2 separate regions of the Homo sapiens genome follow, and region 1 is linked to region 2. The links come from fine-mapping of genetic effects on gene expression. Tissue or cell type: whole blood. Region 2 holds a variant in brackets; the other region holds the start of a gene. All regions are shown on one strand. Distances are from middle to middle.

Region 1 (11,478 bases), 29 kb before region 2:
GGGGTTGCTGGGAAAGAGCCTTTCCTGTCCCTTTCTGCTGTTCTCTCCATCCTGCCCCATCACCACACATTTTGGGAGGGTGTCTTTAGAAGCTGACCTGATAATGTGGGATGTTGTATTCTTCAGATGAATACCTGACAAAGCAGTGGAAGTATCCAATTGAGCTTCATGGGATTGGTAAATATGGCAACGACTCTTACCGAATTTTTTGTGTCAATGAGTGGAAGCAGGTGAGGCTCACTCCCATCCATAATTCAGCACATTTGGTCTCTGAGGCAAAATAAGTCCACCATTATGGTTAAGACTATTTATTGGATACAAATGCTATTACAGTCACAAACAATTGTGTTCCTGGCTGCGGGGAAGCGGGTGGCATGTGGGTTTTGGGGTTTTTGATCAGTAGGCGCTCCCAAGTCCACAAAGACCAGTCCAGCGGCGTGGCCTCTGACTCATCTCCAGTGGTTTGTCACCTCTGGCCCTGTTCCTGTCATTCCCTATTTGTGTGCTATCTCTAAGCCTGACGTGGTTTTCCTCCTGTCAAAAGTACACCACTACAGGAAAGCAGGAAGGTTTGGGCCTGCAATGTATGCATATTGGGTTTCTCTTAGTGGTCTCAGACTACGTTTGTGGTGACTGGGTCCTGCTTCAGCCCTGTTGAATATGCCCAGCCTGTGGCATGCTGGTGGTCATCCTGGCAGCTGGTGGGTGGCCTGGTATGCTGCCCACTCAGCTTGAGACTCACCCTCATGCATTCAGCCAGTAGGTCTGGCCAAGCCTGAACTGAAGGACCATGGTCCTATCCCAGCTTCATCAGAGCAATCCATTGTGACCTGAGAATCCATTTAACCTCTCGGTCTAGAACCTCCTTCTGGAAAGTGAGGTATTAATACTTGACTCATGTTATCGCCACCCCACATTCTAAGTCATGGTTGAGTAGTAATTTGGACAGTACCTTGTAAATTGTGTGAGATTACCTTAATATAAGGTATAACTTAAAATATTCATGAATCCCAGGAGGTTAAAGGTTATAACTTTTAGGTATGGTATCGTAATGTACTGTCCCCCAGCAAACATTTAAAAAGCCAATTTTAAAAAATGTATTTCTGACTAAGTTACATTAAGGTCTCTGCCTCTGTATCTTATGTTTCTTCCAGGTGCACCCTGAAGACCACAAATTAAATAAATATCATGACTGGCTTTGGGAAAATCATGAAAAATTAAGTCTATCTTAAACTCTGCAGCTTTCAAGCTCATCTGTTATGCATAGCTTTGCACTTCAAAAAAGCTTAATTAAGTACAACCAACCACCTTTCCAGCCATAGAGATTTTAATTAGCCCAACTAGAAGCCTAGTGTGTGTGCTTTCTTAATGTGTGTGCCAATGGTGGATCTTTGCTACTGAATGTGTTTGAACATGTTTTGAGATTTTTTTAAAATAAATTATTATTTGACAACAATCCAAAAAAAATACGGCTTTTCCAATGATGAAATATAATCAGAAGATGAAAAATAGTTCTAAACTATCAATAATACAAAGCAAATTTCTATCAGCCTTGCTAAAGCTAGGGGCCCACTAAATATTTTTATCGGCTAGGCGTGGTGGTGCATGCCTGTAATCTCGGAAGGCTGAGGCAGGAGGATCATTTGAGCTCATGAGGGCCCAGGAGGTCAAGGCTTCAGTGAGCCATGATCATGCCACTGCACTCCAGTCTGGATGACAGAGAGAGACCCTGTCTCAAAAAATATATATTTAAAAAATAAAAATAAAAGCTGACCCCAAAGACAAATAAGATTCCTCTGGCATTGTGTATTGTTGACAGCTCCACACTAGCTCTTAGGAATTGTAGATTCCACCCCAGTATCCATTTGATAACCTAATGTGAATATGGGCCTGCTGCTCCATTTCAGCTCACTCACTCTTTTACCTTGGTCCCTTTGTGAAAACTCATTTCTCATCTTCCATTTGGAGTTTATACCATTTGGCCAGGCACAGTGGCTTACACCTGTAATCCTAGCACTTTGGGAGGCTGAGGCAGGAGGATTGCTTGAGCCCAGGAGTTCAAAACCAGACTGGGCAACATAATGAGACCCCGTCTCTACAAAAAATTTTAAAAATTAATTGGGCATGGTGACATACACTTGTGGTCCCAGCTACTCAGAAGGCTGAGGTGGGAGAATCCCTTGAGCCCAGGAGATTGAGGCTGCAGTGAGCTATGATCACACCACTGCACTTCAGCCTGGATGACACAGCAAGACCCTGTCTTAAAAAAAATAAGTCTTAATGCCATTTTTATTACAAGTATTGTTACAGTTCAAATACCAAAGCATTTACTATTAGAAAGAAACCAAGGGAAAAAACTAGTTACTATGTCTTAATTACCAACTACCATTTTAAGGTATAATTTGAAAATTAAATTGATTGAATAAATGAAAAATAAATCAGTTGTTCAGGAAACTGCCTTTGTTGTAGGGCAGTGTGAACCGAATCAGGCTGCAGTGTGATGCAGAGGTAGTTGGTTGTTTCCACTTTAGTGAGTGTCAGTTTTTAGAAGGATAGATTTTGACCAGAGAACAGGAAAACTGGCCACACCTCCCTCTCCCCAAGGCAAACCCACTTTATAGTTTACCATCACATTTTCATTTAACAAACATCCAAGTAGCATTCACAAAGTGTAAAGCCCTGTGGTGGGGAGGGGCACAAAGATAAACAAGTTCTGTACAGACCCTCACAGAGAGAAAGAAGGGCACCTAATAATGGAAGGGAACAAAAGCGGTAAGGAGTAGGGACAAGACACCCAAAGAGGGTGGAGAGGGGCCTCTGAAACCTTGGGCCCAGCTGGGCCTGGAGGGTGGGGCGAGCTCACCAAGCTCAGGGCATCAGGTGTGGCTTTGTGGTAGGGCTGGTGGTCACATACCTTCCCCCAGCATCTCCATGGGGAGTGTGGGCCCGTGTGAATGCAGGAGGCGAGCTCTGCACCAGGGGAGCTCAGGACACAGCCAGGTTGCTCAGGCTCTAGGCCTGGCTTTTCCTGTTTCTTGCAGGTGAGGTTGCCTGACCTCTGTACCTGTTAACTTGTCTTTTAAAAATGGGATAGTGGTGTCTACCTCACACAATGATGGTAATTATGAAGTTCAGACATGTAGTGCTAAAATGGTACCTGGCTTGCAAGAGTGCTGTGTGAATGTGGCCCATGGCAACAATCTGTTTGCAAGCGTCACAAAGATAGCTTGTCTCAGCAAAGGAATAAGGGCTTAGGTGTTTCTCTTTAACTTTTTAAAAATTGAGCTAAAAGCCACCATTTAACCATTTTAAAGTGTACAGTTCAGTGGTTTAGTACATTTACAGTGTGCAGCCATCATCACTAATTCCAGAAGTTTCCATTTCTTTTTTCCACTCCAAAAAGAATCTCTCCACCTGTTAGCAGTCACTTCAATTACTCACCCCATCCCCTAGCAACCATTCATCTACTTTCCGTGTCTGTGGGTTCGTCTATGCTGAACATTTCACATAAATGGAATCATACAGCACGTGGCCTTTTGTGTCTAGCTTCTTGCTTAGCATACTGTTTTGAAGGTTTATCCATATTGTAGCATGTACTTCATTCCTTCTTATGGCCATCCTATGGATATACCTCATTTTGCTTATCAGTTGATGCACATTTCAAGGGTTTATTATTATTCTCTGGTCCTCAGGTTCTGTAACTCCAAACCATGGCACCCTGCCATAAGCGGGGCAGAACATACCCAACACCTCTATCTGGCCACAGCTCACTTTGGTTCTTCCTAACCCTCTGGAGGAGGCAGGGCCTATTTTTCCTATGAGAAAACTGAGGCCTAGAGATATGGAGACCTGCGGAAGATCCCACATTTCACGGGAAAACCGGAGACTTTCTACACTGGATTCAGGGACTACTGGGCCGAACAAAGAAATCCCGCCTTTCACCAAGCCCAGAACTGGGCGGGGCGTGGATTTGCTCGCTGCCCCTCCCAGAATTGGACGAAAACGAGGTGGGGCCAGCAGGCGCTCGGCAGGGCGGGCTCGCTCTTAACACGTGACAGCGCTCAGCCAATTGGCGCGGGGCGTCCGTAGCCACGGCAACAGGTTGCTTCTGCAGTCTGAGCTGAGCGCCTTTCGCACGACTTGGAGTTACGGTTTATCTGATACCCCGGTACCCCTACGCAAGCAAGCCCACATCGACACACATTCACACACGCCCTTCAGCACCCCCTCCCAGCACCACGACCATGGACGACGACTATGAAGCGTACCACAGTCTGTTCTTGTCGCTGCTCGGTAAGCCCCGGGAAGAAGCGTCTGCAGGGAGCGCTCAGCGCCCTAAGGACGCGTGAAAGTGGGGTGAGGGCAAAAACTCAGCCACAGATATTGTGCCGACCCCCTCTGGGTGAAGGGTTGCCATGGAGTCGGGGGCAGGTCATGTACATTTCTGAGATTTCTATCTGAGCCTAGTTGGAGGAACCAGAGGCCCGACCCATGTGACGGGAGCCCTCCAGCTCGCCCTGTTTCTCTGCAGGACATTAATGTATTCAGTACTGGAGGAGAGGCATGGAGAAGACGTCAGTCTTCAAGGTTTTGGCAGTAATGTGCTGGGGACCAAGTTCTTGGCAAAGCAATGCAGCTTCACGGGTAAAGGACAGAGATAAATGGATAATTACAGAATAAGAAGGGGTAAATGCCGGGCCCAGGGATGACACCCAGGAGTAAAAGGTGTGCTGAGGGTATGGGATGGGGAGGAACAGTTCCAAGCTTTTGGAAAAGATCTTTACACTGGAGCTTAAAGGATAAAAAGGAGTTCTCCAAGCCAAAAGGGGAAGGAAAAGCATTTCGGGCAAGGAAACAGCATGACCCAAGAGGTCTGGTGTCTCTGGAAATGAGGTGAGAGAGGTCAGAAGGGACAAGATCATAAAAGATACTGCAAGCCAGGAGATGGAGAGGCCACTGGGAGTGGCAGGACTGGATTGGGAGCAGTCAGAAAAGACCTGAGACTGAGTTGGCAGACTCAGAATGTTGGTGTGGGGAGATGAGAGCTGGGGGCTATAAAGCTTGAAGACTGAAGGTCTTCTCCATGCCGCTTCTCCAGCACTGAACACATTAATGCCCAGTGGAGAAACAGGGAGAGCTGGAGAGGCTGGCCACCTTTCCCAGGCACACAGGTCAGGGCTCTGGTCAAATGCCCAAGCTAAAGATGCTGGGAGGTGAGGGAGAAGGCCCAGGCTAGAGGGAACTACGGGACTTGGGGGCTGGTTGGTCAGGAAACACAGAAGAGGCAAATAAAGATGGTTCTCAAGTTGGCAGCTGGGGGACCTGGTAGATGGAGATGTCTTCCACAGAGATAAGAGAACGTACTCAGAGGACCCAGTTAGTGGGGGAAGGGGCACAAAGACAAATCCAGTCTTGGTTGGTTGAGTTTAAGATCCTTGTCAGTAGCTGGGCACAGTATCTCACGCCTGTAATCCCAGCACTATGGGAAGCTGAGGCAGGAGGATTGCTTGAGCCCAGGAGTTTGAGAATAGCCTGGGCAACATAGTGAGATCCCATCTCTACAAAATTGTTTTTTAAAGTTAGCCAGGCCTGGTGGGGTGGCTCACGCCTGTAATCCCAGCACTTTAGGAGGCTGAGGTGGGTGGATCACGAGGTCAGGAGATCAAGACCATCCTGGCTAACACAATGAAACCCCGTCTCTACTAAAAATACAAAAAATTAGCCGGGCATGGTGGCAGGCGCCTGTAGTCACAGCTACTCAGGAGGCTGAGGCAGGAGAATGGCATGAACCAGGGAGGTGGAGCTTGCAGTGAGCCAAGATCATGCCATTGCACTCCAGCCTGGGTGACAGAGCAAGACACCATCTCAAAAAAAAAAAAAAAAAAAAGGTTAGCTAGGCTTAATGGCATGCACCTGTAGTCCCAGCTACTCAGGAGGCTGAGCTGGGAGGATCATTTGAGCCCAGGAGTTCAAGGCTGCAGTGAGCTATGATTGAGCCACTGTACTCCAGCTTGGGGAACAGAGCAAGACCCTGTCTCAATTAAAAATAAATAATAAAAAAAGATCCCCGGCCGGGCGCCGTGGCTCACGCCTGTAATCCTAGCACTTTGGGAGGCTGAGGTGGGCGGATCACCAGGTCAGGAGATCGAGACCATCCTGGCTAACACAGTGAAACCCCATCTCTACTAAAAATACAAAAAATTAGCCGGTCGTGGTGGCAGACACCTGTAGTCCCAGGTACTCGGGAGGCTGAGGCAGGAGAATGGCGTGAACCCGGGAGGCAGAGCTTGCAGAGAGCCGAGATCGTGCCACTGCACTTTAGCCTGGGAAACAGAGCAAGAGTCCGTCTCAAAAAAAAAAAAAAAAAAAAAAACAAAAAAAAACCCTGTAAGCCATCCAAGTGGAGATGTTTTAGGAACAACTGGAGGTATAAACTTGGAGCTAATTCCAAGTCAAAAATATTGGTATGGATGTCCCCAGCATACAGAAGGTCATAGAAACATGAGAATGGAAGGGATTATTTAAAAAGAGAAGAGACCCTGGGTATAAGCCTGGAAGCAACAACCTTTAAGGAGTAATCAGGAAAAGAGGGGCCCAAAAACAATAGCCGGAGAGGTAGAATTGGACATAGCAAGAGATTGAATCAAGCCAAGAGCAGGGAGAATTTCAAGAAAGAGTAGAATTGTTTCCAGACACCTATAGGCTGTCTGAGAAAAGAGAGAACAAGTGTGTTTTCTGGGACATCCATGGGGAGGACTAGAACCAAAGGGTAGAAAGTCCAGGGAAACAAATTCTGGGTCAATATAAGGAAATATTTTCTAGCAGTCAGAGTTTAGTGTCCACCATGTTAAGTAGAAAGTTCCACGTCACAGGAGATGTATAAACAGAGGCAAAGTCTGCCAGTGGCATTGAGGAGAGTGTCCCTGACCTGGGCAGGTGATTGAACTAGCTGGCGTCTGAGAGCTTTCCTTGCCAATTTCCTAGGAACATTGTCACATAGTCTCTACCCATAACTACACAATGACAGCCTCTTTTATTATAAGAGCCCATTTCCCTTTCTGTCAATGGACACAGGACTCCAAAGAGCACTAGAATGAAGCTCCCTGAGGAGGTTTGGTGGGCAGGCACCCTTGGAAAGTGGGGTCAGGGGCTGGTGCAGGTTTAGAACTGTGAGGAGAATGACTCGGCCAGGGGAAGCCCTGGGGAATGCAGTGCTCTTCAGAGGGCACAGCAAATGCAAAAACTGAAAACCCAGAGCCAGGAAGGAACAAGGCACCTCAGACAACAGAAAGGAGGACAGCAGCTGGGACCACATGAGTGAGGGGGCGGGGGCTGGGAGGTGACAAGGGAAGAGTGGGGAGCAGGGCCAGTGAAGGCAGCTTTGTAGGCCACAGAAGGAGGCGGGTATTTATTCAAAGAGCACTAAGAATCCATTGAATGGTTTCAAATGGGGAAGGGACAGACTGTGAATTTACATTTGTAAGGCTCTCCTGGCTGAGGGCAGAACATGGATTGGGGGTCTAGGGAGGACCCAAATGGGAGCAGCAAGACCTGTGGGGAGCAGGTTTTGTGTTCCCGTGGCCTGCAGGGTAAAGTTTCAATCTCTTAGCCTGGCATTTGAGATGACGCCAACCTTATTTCCCACTAACCTCCTCCTTTACACACAGTGGGCTTCCAACATGTGGAACTGTCTGGTGACCCTAAAATCCCCAAATCCCACTCCTGACCTTTCCCCATCCCTGCCCCTCCACCCCATGAAGCCAGACCATTCTTGAAGGTCCACATCAAAGACACCTCTTCCTTGATGCCCTCCCAGGTCCCACAGTCAGCATTTCTCCCCCAACTGAGAACATCTTGTTACCCTCTGGGTGCCCCACCTTGTTCCATTGGGTGGACTGAGAACAGGTGAACCACGGTAGGTGCCCAGCCTAGTTTAATCTGCACCTGGTTCAGCACCAAGCCCTGGGGGATTCTCAATAAATACTGATTTGATGAATGACTACATTCTCAGTCATCCCCTGCTGGGAATGAACTTTCTTGTGGTCAAAGTAATGATACATGTGTTGTTTAGAAGTGTTCGCTTCCATCCCTATTGATGTGTAATATCTGTTCTAGCATTGCTATAAAGAACTACCTGAGACTAGGTAATTTATAAAGAGATGAGGTTTAATTGACTCACAGTTCCTCAGGCTGTACAGGAAACATGGCTGGGGAGGCCTCAGGAAACTTACAATCATGGCAGAAGGCAAAGACAGGCACATCTTACATAACCCAAGAAGGAGGAAGTGAGAGCAGGGGGAGGTGCTATGCTTTTGAACAACCAGATCTTGTGAGCACTCGCTCTCATGAGAACAGCAAGGGGGACGTCCTCTCCCATGATCCAATCACCTCCCACTAGACCCCTCCTCCAACAATGGGGATTATAATTTAACATGAGATTTGGGCAAGGACACAGATGCAAACCATACCATGATGTTTACTTTTCTTATTTGCTGACTCTGAAAGGAACACATGGGCCTTGTAAAGAGACTTAACAAATGTACTGAATGTCCACTTTGGGCCAGGCTGGGCACCGAGGACACAGGGGAACTAAGACACAGTCCTGGTCACTGGGAAACTCACAGGCTGTTGGGAAAGAAAGATGCAGAAAGTATCTTCATTTCAGAAAAATATGGTAAATGCTTATGATGGGACTAAGTGTGGGGGCTATGGGACCCAGAGGGCCCATGAGAAGGGGAGTGGGAGGGCTTCAAGGGGCCGGGATGCCTGAGCTGAGTCTCAAAGGGTGAGTCAGGGATCAAGAAGTGAAGCAGGGAGGGAGAAGAGCATGTCACAGGGAGGAAACAGCATGGCTTGTGTGTGTTGGTGGGGCAGATCTGTTTGGATACAAACGTAAGGGAAGGCAGAAGGAGCCAGAGAAATCGGAGAGGCTGGTAGGGGTGAGAGGACCAGGTGGGGCCAGGTTAAGGAGCTTGAACTTTACTCTAGAGGCAGTTAGGAGCCATGGACAGGTTTTAAGCAAGGGAGTTTGGGTTTTAGGAGGAAAATGACAGTGACAGTATTTCCAATAAGATTGTTATATCCCTTCTGATTTTTTTAAATTTTTTTGAAAAAGGGTCTCTGTTGCCCAGGCTGGATTACAATGCGGGTAATCTCAGCTCACTGTAGCCTTGACCTCCCAGGCTCAAGTGATCCTCCCACCTCAGCCTCCTGAGGAGCTGCGACTACAGGCGTGCACCACCATGCCCGGCTAGTTTTTAAATTTTTTTGTATAGATGAGGTCTCACTATTTTGCCCAGGCTGGCCTTGAACTCCTGGGCTCAAGCAATCCTCCCACCTCAGCCTCCCAAAGTGCTTGGATTACAGGCATAAGCTACCATGCCTGGCCCCTTCTGATTTTTTAGAACACTTCCAAACTGTTATCTCATTTGATCTTCATAACAACTTCAAGAGGTAGATAGAGCAGAGTTTATATCATTTCAGAAGTAAAATACTTGAGACTCAGCAGGATTGGGTGACAGCCCTGGGTAATATCAAGTAACAGCTAAGAGCCGAGCTCTGGGGCCAGACAAACTGAAGTTCATGTCTCAGCTCTGCTACTAATCAACTGAGTGACCTTGGGCCTCTCTAGGCCTCAATGTCCTTATCTGCAAAATGGGCATAATCATAGTACCAGCATCATAGGTCTGTCCATTTTTCACTCACCAAATATTTACTGAGTTCCCATTATATGTAGACACTGTGGAGGTGTCAGGGCTCCAGTCAGGAACAAGAGAGATAGGGTTACAGTCTTCATGGAGCTCATAGTCTACTAGAAAAAATAAACATGAACCAAATAATTGCACCAGGGGTCTCAAAGGCAAATTGCTGCCCAAACCGAGGACTTAATAAAGAAAATGAGCTGCCTGTGAGACAAAAAGGAATGGGGGAGCCTGTGGCAAGCTGGAGAGGGCAATGCCTCAGCCCAAAGTAGCTCAGATTGAAAAATATCAAGCAAGTTGTCAAACAAAACAAGACCTCAGCCCTCATTCAGCATGAGGGCCACCAGTTTTCAGCCCTTGTTGTACCCAGTCGTGATAAGTGGTCTGAAGGAAAGTGCAGGTTGTGATGCAAAGATGGGACCTGGAGGATAAGGAAGAGTGCCCAGGGTGTGGATGGGGAGGGAGCACTCCTGCTAGAGGGAGGAGCACGTGCCAACCCCTAGTCAGGATGAGGCTTGGACCACTCAGCAAACAGAGAGAAGCCCAGGCATCCAGGACATAGTAAGGGAAGAGAAGCAAGGGATTAGGGGGACAGGTTGACAGAAGAGGGGCCCGGGACTTCATTTTAAGGTTATCAAAAGTCATGGAAGGGCTTCAAAATGAGTGCATGGTGAGTATATACCAATAATAGCAGATATATTATGTACAAAGCAACTCTAATAAATTGACTGATTTTAACATCACTCCCATCCGATAAAATAGGTTACCATCATTATGCCCATTTTACCAATGAGGAGGTTGAGACAGAGAAGTTAGGTGGTTTGCTCAAGATCATGCAGCCAGTAGGTGGCAGGGCCAGGACTCAGACCGAAGAACGTTCTGGCCCCAAAGCCTCTGCTCTTAATACTGTGCTGCCTCAGATGATCACACAAGATCAGACTGGCATCTTTAAAAGTTCATTCTGATTGCCAATGGGAGGTGTTGGGGGCTGGGTATGGAGAAGATGAAATAAGAGAAAGCATATAGAGCCCTTAGCTTGCTGCCTGCTGTTGGGAGCACCCGGTAACATTAGATGAAATTATCCTTACGATTACAGCAAGACAATGATAAAGCCTGGCCTGGGATCCAGGGCCCTGTTGCCCAGCCTGGAGCAAAAGTGTTTTTCCTTCCTGGCTCCTTTCAGTCCTCTTCCAGAGAGAAACTCATCTTTTAACTCTCTTACCCCAAGGACTCTGCCCGTCTAAGACTCCCATCAATGAAAATGCTCCCGTCTTTGATCCTGAACCGGTCATTGCCCACTGCTTCAAGCAGTTCCAGCAGAAGGACTTCCGCCTGCCTCAGACCCGCCGGCGAATCATCATGGTGCCTCGCAAGGAGGATCAGACACCCCTTAATCCTGCATCCCAACCTCAGGCTCCCCCAAAGCCCATCCCCAGCTTCAAAGTTCTGGAAGCTAGAGATATCCAAGAGCAGCCAGAGGACAGGAAGACCTGGCTGAGCCAGAGGTCGAAGCTGCGGCAGGAGCTAGAGTCCTTTGGTGATGTAAAGAGGTGGCTGGAGAACAAGCCCAGCATCACGCCTTCAGAGGCCAAGGTCTTACACATGATCCACGAGGAGCAGAGTGCCCAGCCAAATGCCTCCCAGGCAACTACCAGGACCACCAGGGTGAGCAGCCCCATTTGCCAGATGAAGACACCAAGGGTTTAGGGATGCATCATTATTTTATTCCCTTGGGTTAGGCTGGATAGGGATAGTTCACACCATTTCACAGAGGAGC
Region 2 (11,774 bases):
TGCCTGCAGTGGGACACAGCAGGGCCCTGTAGAGATCAGACAGGCCTTCGGTTAAATGGACAAGGCACTTCTCTGAGTCTTAGCATCTTCATATGTAAAGGGGCCTAGTAGCTCCTACCATACACTATGAGGATCAGATGAGAAAGAGTGTCAACATCTTAGCAGGGACAGCACTCAATCAATGATTGTCGTTGTTTTACCTTGCTCTGGTTGGGGCATCTTCAAGTGCAGGAGTAGGCCCAGGCCTGCAGGTGGGTCCTGGCCATGACACGGGCTGTGACTTCCTTCCAGCCCCGGGGTGGGCCAGGAAGTGGCTGGGAACCCAGGAAGGGGATTTTGGTCCATGCTTAGGTAGGCCATAGCTAATAAAGGATAAAGAGAGTTCTCTTAGGTCAAGGAGAGACGTTGACTGTATCTTGCTACTTATGGTTGATGGAGGCTGGGTGGGAAAGAGTGCCGTGAACGATTAGTGATGTCTGTCAGGCTCAGGGTTGGAGGGGAAGGGGGTTAGATTTCACCACCTTTGTCCTCAGGGCTGGGTTAAGCTCTGGAGTGGGGAGTAGGAGCCAGGGACCCCAAAAGGATTTGGCAGTGACTTACTGAGCCTCCCTCGTAACTACCCTGAGAGGTCTCTATTCTGGACCATGAGAAAACCAAGGATGAGAAAGGGGAAGTGACTTGCCCAGGTCACCTGGCCAGATTCTGAGGGTAGGTCCAGCTGACCCAAGCCCACTGTGTTCCCCTGGAGCATGGAGGCACAGAGTCAGGGTCCACCCCAGGTGGAAGACATTTTTCTTTCAGAGCTCTCGTTTGAGACTTAGAAACGGGTCCACCCCTGCGGCCCTGACCTACTCCCTAAAGCCCCATTGGCCTGGATTTCCACTCTCCTCACAAAATGCCTCTCTCTTCTCCACTAGGAAAACGCCAAAGAAAAGCAAGAAAATGCGCTTTAAGGAGTTTGAGGAATTTACCAGGTCTGTGGCAATCATCTAACTCCACAAGGAAGGAAGGTGGGAGGAGGGGCAGCTTCGCCTGAGACAACTGGGACTCTGCACTCCTGGCACAACAGCTGGGGCTCGGTGCCCTGGCCTGAGAGGCAGTGACACAACACAGAGAGGGCCAGGAGGCATTGCTCTGGGGCTTTCCATGTGTTCACTCACTCAGATCCTCCCAACAGCCCTACGAAGTGACACTAAGCATATTCATTTTACACAGGAGGAAACTGAGGCACAGACAGGGTAAATATCATGCTCAGAGTCGCACATCTACGAAGTGATGCAGTGGGGATCTGAACCCAGCTAGGGTGGCTGCAGGGGCCGTACTCCAAACACCACATTAAAATGCCTCCAGATAACAGATGGTTCGCGCTTAAGACTTTGAGTTTAGAGGCATTGGACAAGGAATGAAGCCTGCACTTGGCCACTTGCTCAGTGTGCGACGGCCTCCCCAGGCCTCTGGGTCCTCACAGGTGAGGTCGACAGGATAACAGAGCTGACCATATGGAACTGTGGGGAGGACTGAGGTGCTGAAGTGCTTGGCACAGTGCTAAATCTCCACTTTGGTCACAGTTGGTGGGCTCTGCGATGAAGCCTCAGCTCTGGCCTGTCTGCCATGACAACCATCCCTGTGTCTTCTTGTTTTCCAGGAAGCTGAAGGTGAAGAGGTCCAGTGGTCTGCAGCAAACACACCCCAATTCCTTCTGGCCGGGTCATCTTCTGGATAAGCTGCAGCTCTACCTGCCCACTGTGGCCACAGACCGGAGCCTGGCGCTCTTCAGTTGTGTTCAACACCAGCCCCATGTCTACCCAGCCACCTACCACCCTGACCACTGGTGGCCCCTTAGGAACAAGAACTACATGACCCACGCCCATTATGATGCCGCCAAGGTGTACTACATCAACTAGAGCTAGCCAGGTGTTGCCGGACCCAGCCTTCCTGGGCCAGGGGCCAGTGCAGCCAGCGGCCCAGAGCCCAGACACAAGAGGAGTGTCAAAGAGTCAAACTAAAGAAATCCTTTCAAAGAGGGATGGACCGGGGGCCAGTTCCCTCTGGACTCAAAGTGTCCAGTGTCTCAGAGGGTAGATGTGTCCAAGGAATGACGTGCAGTTTTTGACTATTTCCCTCCCCTGACCTCTGCCCTTTCTACATAAAGCAGGTTGGAGTTTTTCTCATTTCACCTGTGACCCAGCTGATGTGATTTCTTGCTCAGGAGCTGTGACCGGGGGGAGACCTTGAGCCTGGGGAAATACAGGTACATTCCCTGGGCTATTCCAGGGATGACTGCAGGCCACCTCCAGCCTCTTGTCCCGGGATCCCAGTGGGGAAACCTTGAGCCTGGGGGAATACAGGTACGTTCCCTGGGCTATTCCAGGGATGACTGCAGGCCACCTCCAGCCTCTTGTCCTGGGACCCCAGTGCCCACAGGGAAGCAGTGTGGGTACCCCGTACTCTCCTCTGTGAAGTGAGGTGGCAGCATGTCCCGTACCCCACAAAGACTGAGCCATCAGGTTACTGCTTCCAAATCTCTTGGGTCTTTGGAAACTGAAGGCAGGCTCTGTGGTTCATGAACCCTCCCAGTTGATGAACCCACTTGACCCAATCAAGACCTTTTCTTTCATGACAGGCATCATTCAGGCTGCCATTAGTAATGTGCTTCCCTGCTCCGCATCCCATCTCACTACATACAGCCTGCAGGATAAGCAAGATTCATGAGGTGTGGAATAGCCACAGATGCAGCAGGGTTCTAGCCCCAGCACTACGGCTTGCCAGCTGTGTGACCTCAGACATTCCACTTCTCTGGGTCTCCTCAAACTCCCCATTCTCCTCACACCCAAAAATCTCACCATGGAGTTGTTAACACACCCTTCTCACCTCTCTCTCATTCAGTCATCAATACAATCCAGTTTAGCTTCTGACCCCATCTGGTCCCTGGAACTATCCCTGTCAAGATCGCCAGTGACATCTGTACTGTGTTCCAGGAGTGGAATCTAGGAGGTTTTTTTCCTCCTGAAATTTGATTTTCAAAATAATCTTAAAAACAAAAGCTAAGGGCTGGGCGCGGTGGCTCACGCCTGTAATCCCAGCATTTTGGGAGGCCAAGGTGGGCAGATCACCTGAGGTCAGGAGTTTGAGACCAGGTTGACCAACATAGTGAGACCCTTGTCTCTACTGAAAATTAAAAAAAATTAGTCGAGTGTGGTGGCGCACACCTGTAATCCCAGCTACTACGGAGCCTGAGGCAGGAGAATCCCTTGTCCCTTGAACCTGGGAGGCAGAAGTTGCAGTGAGCCGAGATCTTGCCACTCCACTGCACTCCAGCCTGTGCAACAGAGTGAGACTCCCTCTCAAAAAAAAAAAAAAAAAAAAAAAAAAAAAAGCTAAGCAAATCAAGAACAAGCTTAAAAATTAGACAGTAGCTGGGAACAATGGCTCATATTTGTAATCCCCGCTACTCAGGAGGCTGAGGCGAGAGATCGCTTAAGACCAGCCTGGCCAAAATAGTAAAACCATAACTCTACAAAACAACCAACAAAACAAAGCAAGGTAGTTTAGACTAATGGTTAGAAGCGTGGAGCTTGGAGTAAAATCTCCAAAATTCTCCTTCCACATATGCAAAATAGAGACAATAATAGGTTACATTATAGAATTGTGGTAGGCCCATCGTACGTTAGCGGTTCCGGTCTCATCACTATTTACTATGTAAATTCAGTGAGGGAATTTTGGGAAGTCGGTCTTGATCTCTCCTGACCGCTAGGAAGCGCACTTCGGAGTAGAGGAAACAAGGGCGGAAATAGCCCAAACGCTAGATTGGCTTCAACTTCTGGCGGAAGTAGATTCCTCCCTACACCAGGTCTCAACTCAGAAAGAATTCCAACTTTCTAACTAGTGCCAAGGGCAGGTAAGATAAATTTTCCTTTACATTCTTAGATATTACTCTCTATTAAAACAGTTAAATTCGGCATTTCTGCAGCACTCTTTCTTTGACATGTCTTTTTTTTAAGGACCCGGAGCCGGAAGTGCTTGCCTTTTCCCTGTCAGGACCCAGAGGTTACCTCCCATCAGCCCCGGCGCTCTCTCATCCCTTCTCTCTTCCTTGGTGCTTCTTTTTCCTGCTCGGTGAGTTTGTTTGTTTGTTTGTTTTTGAGACAGAGTCTCACTTTGCTTCCCAGGCTGGAGTGCAGTGGTGCGATCTCAGCTTACTGCAGCCTCCGCTTCCGGGGTTCAAGCGATTCTCCTGCCTCAGCCTGCCAAGTAGCTGGGACTACCGGCGCCCACCACCACGCCTGGCTAATTTTTGAATTTTTAGTAGAGAGTGGGTTTCACTATGTTGGCCAGGCTGGTCTGGAACGCCTGACCTCAAGTGATCCGTCCGCCTCGGCCTTCCAAAGTTCTGGGATTACAGGCGTGAGCCACCGCGCCCGGCCTGAGTGAGTCTTAATCCGTGGCCATCTGCGTTCCTGCAGGCTTCATCTGGCCCTATGGTCCCCTGGTAAGGAGGCCTTCCCTACCACTCTGTGTCTGTGGGTATTGTCGGCTTGCTGGAGCGCGTACACGAACAGAGTGAAGCAGGCAGCCGGGGTGGTGGTTGGGCTTTGCGTCTATTGACGAAAAGAGTCAAACTGTGTAAAGTATTTGAAAAGACTTATTCTGAGTCCAGTATGAGTGACCACGGCCCGTGACAAAGCCCTCAGGAAGTCCTGAGAACATGTGCCCAAGGTGGTTGGGGTGCAGCTTGGTTTTGTACATTTTAGGGAGGTGTGTTGGGGGGCCTGGTCCGGGCTGTTGGTAGATTTGACAATTGGTTGAGTTTGTCTAAAGACTTGGAATCAACAAAAAGGAATGCCTGGGTTCAGA[T/G]AAGAGGTTGTGGAGACCAAGGTTCTTATTTATGCAGAGGAAGCCTCCAGGTAGCGGGCTTCAAAGAGAGTAGATCGTAAATGTTTCTTACCAGGCCTGAAAAGGTGCCAAAGTCTTAGTGGAGCCTCTCCTGGCTCAGGGAGAAGACCTGGAAAGGGAGGGGGATTCACTACAGGACGTAGATTGTCCCCACAAGAGACAGCTTTACAGGGCCATGTCAGAATATGTCAAAGAAATATATTTTTGGGTAAAGTACTTCTGTTTCTTTCAGGGCCTGCAATCTGTCATGTGATGCTATACTAGAGTCAGGTTGAAATTTGGTGTCTTATTGCTACAAAGTCTGTTTTGTCAGTCTTGGGATCTCTTTTAATGCTAACGCTGGTCAGCTGTGCCTGAATTCCATAGGGAGAAGGGCATAATGAGGCAAGTTCGACCCCACATTCCCATTATGGCTTGAACTAGTTTTTCAGGTTAACTTTGGAATGCCCTTGGCCAAGAGCAGGAGTCCATTCAGTTGGGTGGGGGGCTTAGAATTTATTTTTCGGTTTATACCGTGCTTACTGATGTTGGCCCACGTGCATTCATTCATTGCCATGACCCCACGTTCCTTTCCTTCTAGCCTGTGACCCTAGGGCTGCTGTGGTGGGACTGCAAAAAAAAAAAAAAAAAAAAAAAAAAAAAGATGGGGTGCAGGTCAGCTCACTCAGTTGTTAACAGAGATTTTGATCGTCAGGAGCTCTGGGAATATAAAGATGAAACTTCCCCCTTGCCTTCAAGGATATCATGGGCCAGAAGGCAAAGTTGTTTTGAATACGTGGTTCATTGAGTACCCACTCTGTGCCAACTGATGGCTGCAAAGAGAACAGAAGGGGTGCTGCTGTAGGAAATAAATGAATGGCTCAGAAGACCACACTGAGGAAGTTGTGAGTTGATAATGGAAGATCTCCAGGTTTGAGGCATCCTTAGAGGGATATGATGGTTTTGTGTGTGTTGGGGGTGTGGTAGCGCAGCTGCTACCTAGGGAATTAGAAGGTTTTCTTTATTGAACATTTACCCTGTGACAGGTACTGCAGGCATTCAGCACACAATGTCGTCTCCATTTTACAGGTGAGGAAACTGAGACTCCAGTTCAAGTAGATGGTCAAGGCCAGTACTACCGGAAGGACCATCTGGGGGTTCAGACACTGGCAGGGTGGGATTTGCTGCCCCTTGCAAATTGAGAGTGTCTTGGGGTCAGTTTTGATTTGCTCAGCTGTTGGCATTCTTTGGGCTCTGAGTGGGTGAGGTGACCCTTGACCTCCTGGGATCGCATCTGGAGACTGCCTAGTATTCTGCCAGCTTCGGAAAGGGAGGGAAAGCAAGCCTGGCAGAGGCACCCATTCCATTCCCAGCTTGCTCCGTAGCTGGTGATTGGAAGACACTCTGCGACAGTGTTCAGTCCCTGGGCGGGAAAGCCTCCTTCCAGGATTCTTCCTCACCTGGGGCTACTTCTTCCCCAAAAGGCATCATGGCTGCCCTCAGATCCCTTGTGAAGCCCAAGATCGTCAAAAAGAGAACCAAGAAATTCATCCGGCACCAGTCAGACCGATATGTCAAAATCAAGGTGTGTGGTCCTGGGATGGAAATGGGTGTGGGGTGAAGAAAGGAGTTTCCAACAGGCTGCCAGTTCTGACATCACCTAGTCAGGATTACCTTTGACCGATGAACTGGTTTGTGGAAGAGCTTTCTGTGGAAATACAGGTCTCCCCCAGTGTGCCCTAGTGCTGGTACTTACGTCTCTTGATGTGTGAAGTGAAACTTTAATGAAAAGGGACACTTGGCCATTTTGATATGTTTGGAGGGCTTTGCATTTGTATCATGTATTTTGGGTTGCCTTATGACAGCAGGATCCCTATTTTATAGACAAGAAAACTCAGAGGTGCTGAGAGCAGTGTCTGCACCTGTGCTCGCCATCTCAATATCTACACAGTCCCCTCGCATCCCATTGGTGTCTCCATTTCTTGGGAGTGAGAATGGCGGGGGTGCCTGCCTTCCTAGTGGCAAAAGCCACGAGCTCCTGGTTTTTCCCACCAAAAAAGCATGTAAGGAAATAGTGAAGTCCTATTACCAAAGGCAACTACTGTGTGGCATACTTCCTTTTCATTTGGTCCTTTTTTCCCTCCCCTATGGAACAGTTGGCAGTCTGCACAGATGCTAACCCACCTGTGTATTATTTCCTTCAGCGTAACTGGTGGAAACCCAGAGGCATTGACAACAGGGTTCATAGAAGGTTCAAGGGCCAGGTCTTGATATGATGCCCAGCATTGGTTATAGGAGCAAAAAAAAAAAAAAAAAAAAAAAACCAGAAAGCACGTGCTGCCCAGTGGCTTCCGGAAGTTCCTGGTCCACAATGTCAAGGAGCTGAGAGTGCTGCTGATATGCAACAAGTGAGTTGGGTCCATCTCTGGTTTCAGGGGTCTGAAGTTTGCATCTGTGCGGGCACTTCTGGCAGGAACTCTGGAAACTCTTGGGATGCATTTTGGGAAGCTGACATTCTCTGAGGGAATGTGAAGTCATTCCTTACAGGAGTTTAGAGAATGCTTGTTTGGGGCCAGGTGTGGTGGCTCATGCCTGTAATCCCAGCACTTTGGGAGGCCGAGGTGGGCAGATCACCTGAGGTCAGGAGTTCGAGACCAGCCTGGCCAACTTGACGAAACCCCATCTCTACTAAAAAGACAAAATTAGCTGGGCGTGGTGGTACACGCCTGTAATCTCAGCTACTCAGGAGGCTGAGGTGGGAGAACCAGCAGGAGAGGTTGCAGTGAGCTACGATCGCGCCACTGCACTCCAGCCTAGGGCGACAGTGAAACTCCATCCCAAAAGGAAAAAGAGAATGCTTCTTGGGGAGTTCAGTGTGTTTCCTTTGTTGGAGAGGGGAGAGACTTTTGTCCTCATAGCTGTGGAGTCCCAAGACCAGAAAAATGGACTTTGCTTGACACAGTGAACACAGCAGTAATCACCGGTTTTCAATATAATATCTTTTGGCTGTTGTTTCCAGAATGTTGCTTTATTTATGAGGGAATTTGGGGAAGATCAAACATAGGCCTCAGACTTTAAGAGGCCCTTTATGCTTTGGTAAGGGGTATTTTCAGGGGTACGGAGGCTTTACAACCAAATGTGAACTAGAGGGAGAATAAGAGGAAGACTTTGTGGACAGAGAGTACTTTACACAAAGGTGGAGAGTGCAAGGAGGGGTCACAGGACATTAGTGCTAGGTAGTGTTTACGGTTTGTTTTTAGAGACGTTTCTACTCTGTTGCCCAGGCTAGAATGCAGTGGCCATTAACAGCTATGATGATGGCCTGCTGCACCCTTGAACTCCTGGGCTCAAGTGATCCTCCTGCTTCGCCCTCCCAAGGTGCTGGGATTACAGACATGAGCCACCATGCCTGCACAAGAACAGCAGGTTTAAAAAACTAGGCAAGCTCACGCCTGTAATCCCAGCACTTTTGGGAGGGCGAGGTGGGCGGATCACAAGGTCAGGAGATCGAGACCATCCTGGCTGACACGGTGAAACCCCGTCTCTACTAAAAATACAAAAAAAAAAAAAATAGGCAAGCAGAGGCAGCAGGGGCAGTCTGTGTGGGGTACAGGGGCAGTCTCTGTGTGTGCGCAAGGGTAGTCTCTGTGTGTGTGTGTGCAAGGGCAGTCTCTGTGTATGTGTGTGAGTGTGTGTGTGTGCAAGAGCAGTCTGTGTGGGTGCAGGGGCCGTCGGTGTGTGTGTGTGCAGGGGCTGTCTCTGTGTGTGTATGTGTGTGTATGTGTGTGCAGGGGCAGTCTGTGTGTGTGCAGGGGCTAGCTCTGTGTGTGTGTGTGCAGGGGCTAGCTCTGTGTGTGTGCAGGGGTAGTCTGTGTGTGTGTGCAGGGGCCGTCTCTGTGTGTGTGTGTGTGTGTGTGTGTGTGTGTGTGTGTGCAGGGGCAGTCTGTGTGTAGGGGCCATCTGTGTATGTGTGTGTGCAGGGGCAGTGTGTGTGTGTGTGCAGGGGCAGTCTCTGTGTGTGTGTGTATGTGCAGGGGCAATCTCTGTGTGTGTGTGTGTGTGTGTGTGCAGGGGCAGTCTCTGTGTGTGTGTGGCCTCTGCTCAGCTCCTGGGAAGGGGCTTCTGATCCTCTGTCAACATCAAAGGAGCTGGGCCTTGAAAACCTATCTCAGCCTCCTGGTCTGAATGCAAAGCCATCGGACTCTCTTCCTGGGGCATTTGGTTATGTAAAGCCCTGCGCCAGGTTCCCAGAGTGGGTGCTTCAGCTTTGGGCAGCAGTGGGTCCTATCTCTGGGAACACCGACAGTGACTCCTTGTGTCAGGTAGGTGGGTGTCAGAGTGTCCTCATTTCATAAACAGGGACATTCAGAGGCCTTTGGCCCTTGCCCAATGTCCTGAGGCCAGAGAGCAGTGGAGTGAGCCTAGCCGTCCACAGGCTGTCCCACCCACATGCTCAGGATGCAGGGACTCACCGTAGGAAGAGGCGGAGAAGATGAAGGGCTGGCGGCAGTTGATGCAGACGTTGCCCAGGTTGTTGAGCAGCGGGTTGTTGGTGGAGCAGCGGTAGCACAAGGGCACCAACTCCTACAAAACAGCCACGGACTCCCGAGGGGCCGGGGCAGGCACGTGTCCTCCTCCCCCTGGACTCTGGCTTCGGGCCCCTGGGGCCTGGCTGCCAAGAGGAAAGGCCACCCGGGTGGGCAGGCAGGGAAGGGGTGCCAGGCCCAGGAGCTCCATGCCATGGGGAAGCAGGATAAAGGCCTGCCGAAATACCCAAGCCCTGTCACTTGGGTCCCTAAGAGGTGGGCATGATTATTTCCATCTTGCAGATGAGAAGAATAATGTCTGGGGTGAAGGTGAAGCACCCAGCCCAAGACTCAGCAGCCAGGAAGTGGCCCAGCGCTCTTTATACCACGGGTGCAGGAATTCACACAGAAAAGTGGAGGCCAAGGCGTGAGAATTCCTCAATGACTGCCCTCTAAAGGAAGAGGTGAGTGTGGGGCCTGCTCTGAGTGCTAAACACAGGCAGTCTCTGTGTCTCCCAAGGAACCCAATCGCTATCACATTTGCTTTAAATATTTAGAGACGCACGATTTGTTTCCTTGTCAGTCAAAGCCAAGAGGTGGCATGTGATGACATGCTGCCAAATGCTCAGGGCACAGACGGAAACTTTCATGTCAACCCTGACATAGTCACCACAGATCTCAATGGCCTTGACGTGCTCTCCTGCTGAGATTTACATCCCCACGGTGACTTTGGGCTCTTTCATATTTCTGGCCCAGTCAGCCTGTTTGGTGATTAGCATCTTTGTTTCTTTGGGGTCTCCAGATCCAAAGAAATCCTGAGGAAGCACAACAAACAAAAACACTCTGGATCAGAACTTCCTGTGCCAGCGTTACATCAGGGTTTTCTAGCAGCAAGGGCGGGCTCCACATGGCTGAAGCAGGCAACCAGGAGGTAGGCAGGGCCCGGCCCTGAGGGGCTGAGTTGGGGGAGTCCCAGGTCTCGGGAAGAGTGATCTCAGGCTGCCCTGCAGGTGTTCCTGGGGGATCCTGGGACAGCATCAGGGACGCTGGCCCCCAGTGCTTCCTTCCCATCTCACAAATGGGCATTTGTTCATCGGCTAAACAACACTTTCTAGACTATTTGGGGCACTGCACATGAAGTCTGCAGGGTCGGGGGTTCATGATCAGGCTGTCTCTCTCTCACATAGTTTGGTAAATACAGGACTGTTCCTAAACAGCAATGAGACAACCTGGTGCACAGTTCCACATATCGAGACCTGTCATCTTATTCAGATCATATGGGTGATACCACATGCTTCAGAGTGAGGCTGAGCATGGGTTCCCCTAAACTTACACAGACAAAATGACTTACAGTGTTTGCCGGCCCTCCGTGCCCTCCATGCCCTCTCTGAGTCACCAGCAAACATTCTGTGCCCTGAACTAGAGAATCATCACATTGTCTTTGCCCCAGTTACTTTCCTGGAACAGATAACAAGCAAACCTCTCTCTGGTTAGTTGCTTCTCGGCTGAATGGTTAGGGATCCTGTGCTGAGGTCAGGTCTGCAGGGGTGAGAACCTGATCCGACAGTGGGACAGCAGGAGGCCATGGGGGGATCTGAGGCAGGGAAGGTGCTCAGGAGAGGACCTGAGAAGGAAGAGATGGCTGTGGTCCTGGAGGCTCAGGGATCAGGCCTAGGGCCTGTGTTCCTTCGGCCTCAGCATACCTCTGAAGCGGTATGCCCAGCTTCTCTGGGCAGGCCCTACAATGTGTGAGAAACAGCCTCAGAACACCACCTCTTTTCAGGGTAGTTACCCAAAATACACACGTGGGAGTTTGCCAGAGTTGAGGCAGCTTTTAAAGGTGGAGCTTTTCAAAAAGGGAAACTGGGAGCACTTACAGCCCAGGTCTATGTTACTGGTAAGAAGTGGTTTGTCTCAGGAATAATGTACCCTGTGGAGAGTACTTTGTGTCAGCCTCACTGAGAACAAAAAAAGCACTCCTTTCCCCATGATTAACACTCATGTGTCAGGAAAGTACAGTCAATGTATGCTAAAAATCCACTTGAACAATTAGCTCGCTTTTTTCCCTCATTTGCTTTCAGAGTAAATGTGCTTTCAGAGTATTAGGTCGGCCTAATATATGATACATTTTAAGAAGGGGAGGAAAGCGCATTGTATACCCTGATGCTGGGACCCAATAGAAGACAGGCCCCCTGGCTGGCCTTTGGTTCTCCCTGGAGCTGACAAAGGGAAGGGGCTTGGAAAGCAGCCACTGTCCCCGCCTAGTTTGGGCCTTTACAGACACACCTTTCCTTTTGGCAGCTGCTATGGCACGGATTCTCTATGCCAGCACGAAGCTGGAAAACCTGCCTACCTGGCTGGTGAAATGAGGGTGGC

What was found. PIP is the estimated chance that this variant, and not a neighbour inherited with it, causes the effect.
Region 1: it holds the start of EFCAB12, and the variant in region 2 is fine-mapped to the expression of EFCAB12 in whole blood (TOPMed, PIP 0.91).

What each region holds. Positions count from the first base shown.
Region 1 is chr3:129,421,255-129,432,732 of GRCh38, reverse strand. EFCAB12 (EF-hand calcium binding domain 12) reads left to right here and starts at 4,097. Exons shown (of 9, transcript NM_207307.3): 1 at 4,097-4,293; 2 at 10,930-11,366. The coding sequence starts at 4,245. It overlaps MBD4 (methyl-CpG binding domain 4, DNA glycosylase), which reads left to right. Exons shown (of 8, transcript NM_001276270.2): 7 at 127-230; 8 at 1,155-1,786. The coding sequence ends at 1,232. RefSeq lists a silencer at 3,911-3,960 and an enhancer at 8,143-8,192.
Region 2 is chr3:129,391,723-129,403,496 of GRCh38, reverse strand. It overlaps EFCAB12 (EF-hand calcium binding domain 12), which reads left to right. Exons shown (of 9, transcript NM_207307.3): 8 at 918-974; 9 at 1,646-2,176. The coding sequence ends at 1,904. SNORA7B (small nucleolar RNA, H/ACA box 7B) reads left to right here and starts at 6,149; the gene lies at 6,149-6,287. It also overlaps the pseudogene RPL32P3. RefSeq lists an enhancer at 8,085-8,781. The variant T/G (reference allele first, on the strand shown) is at 4,855.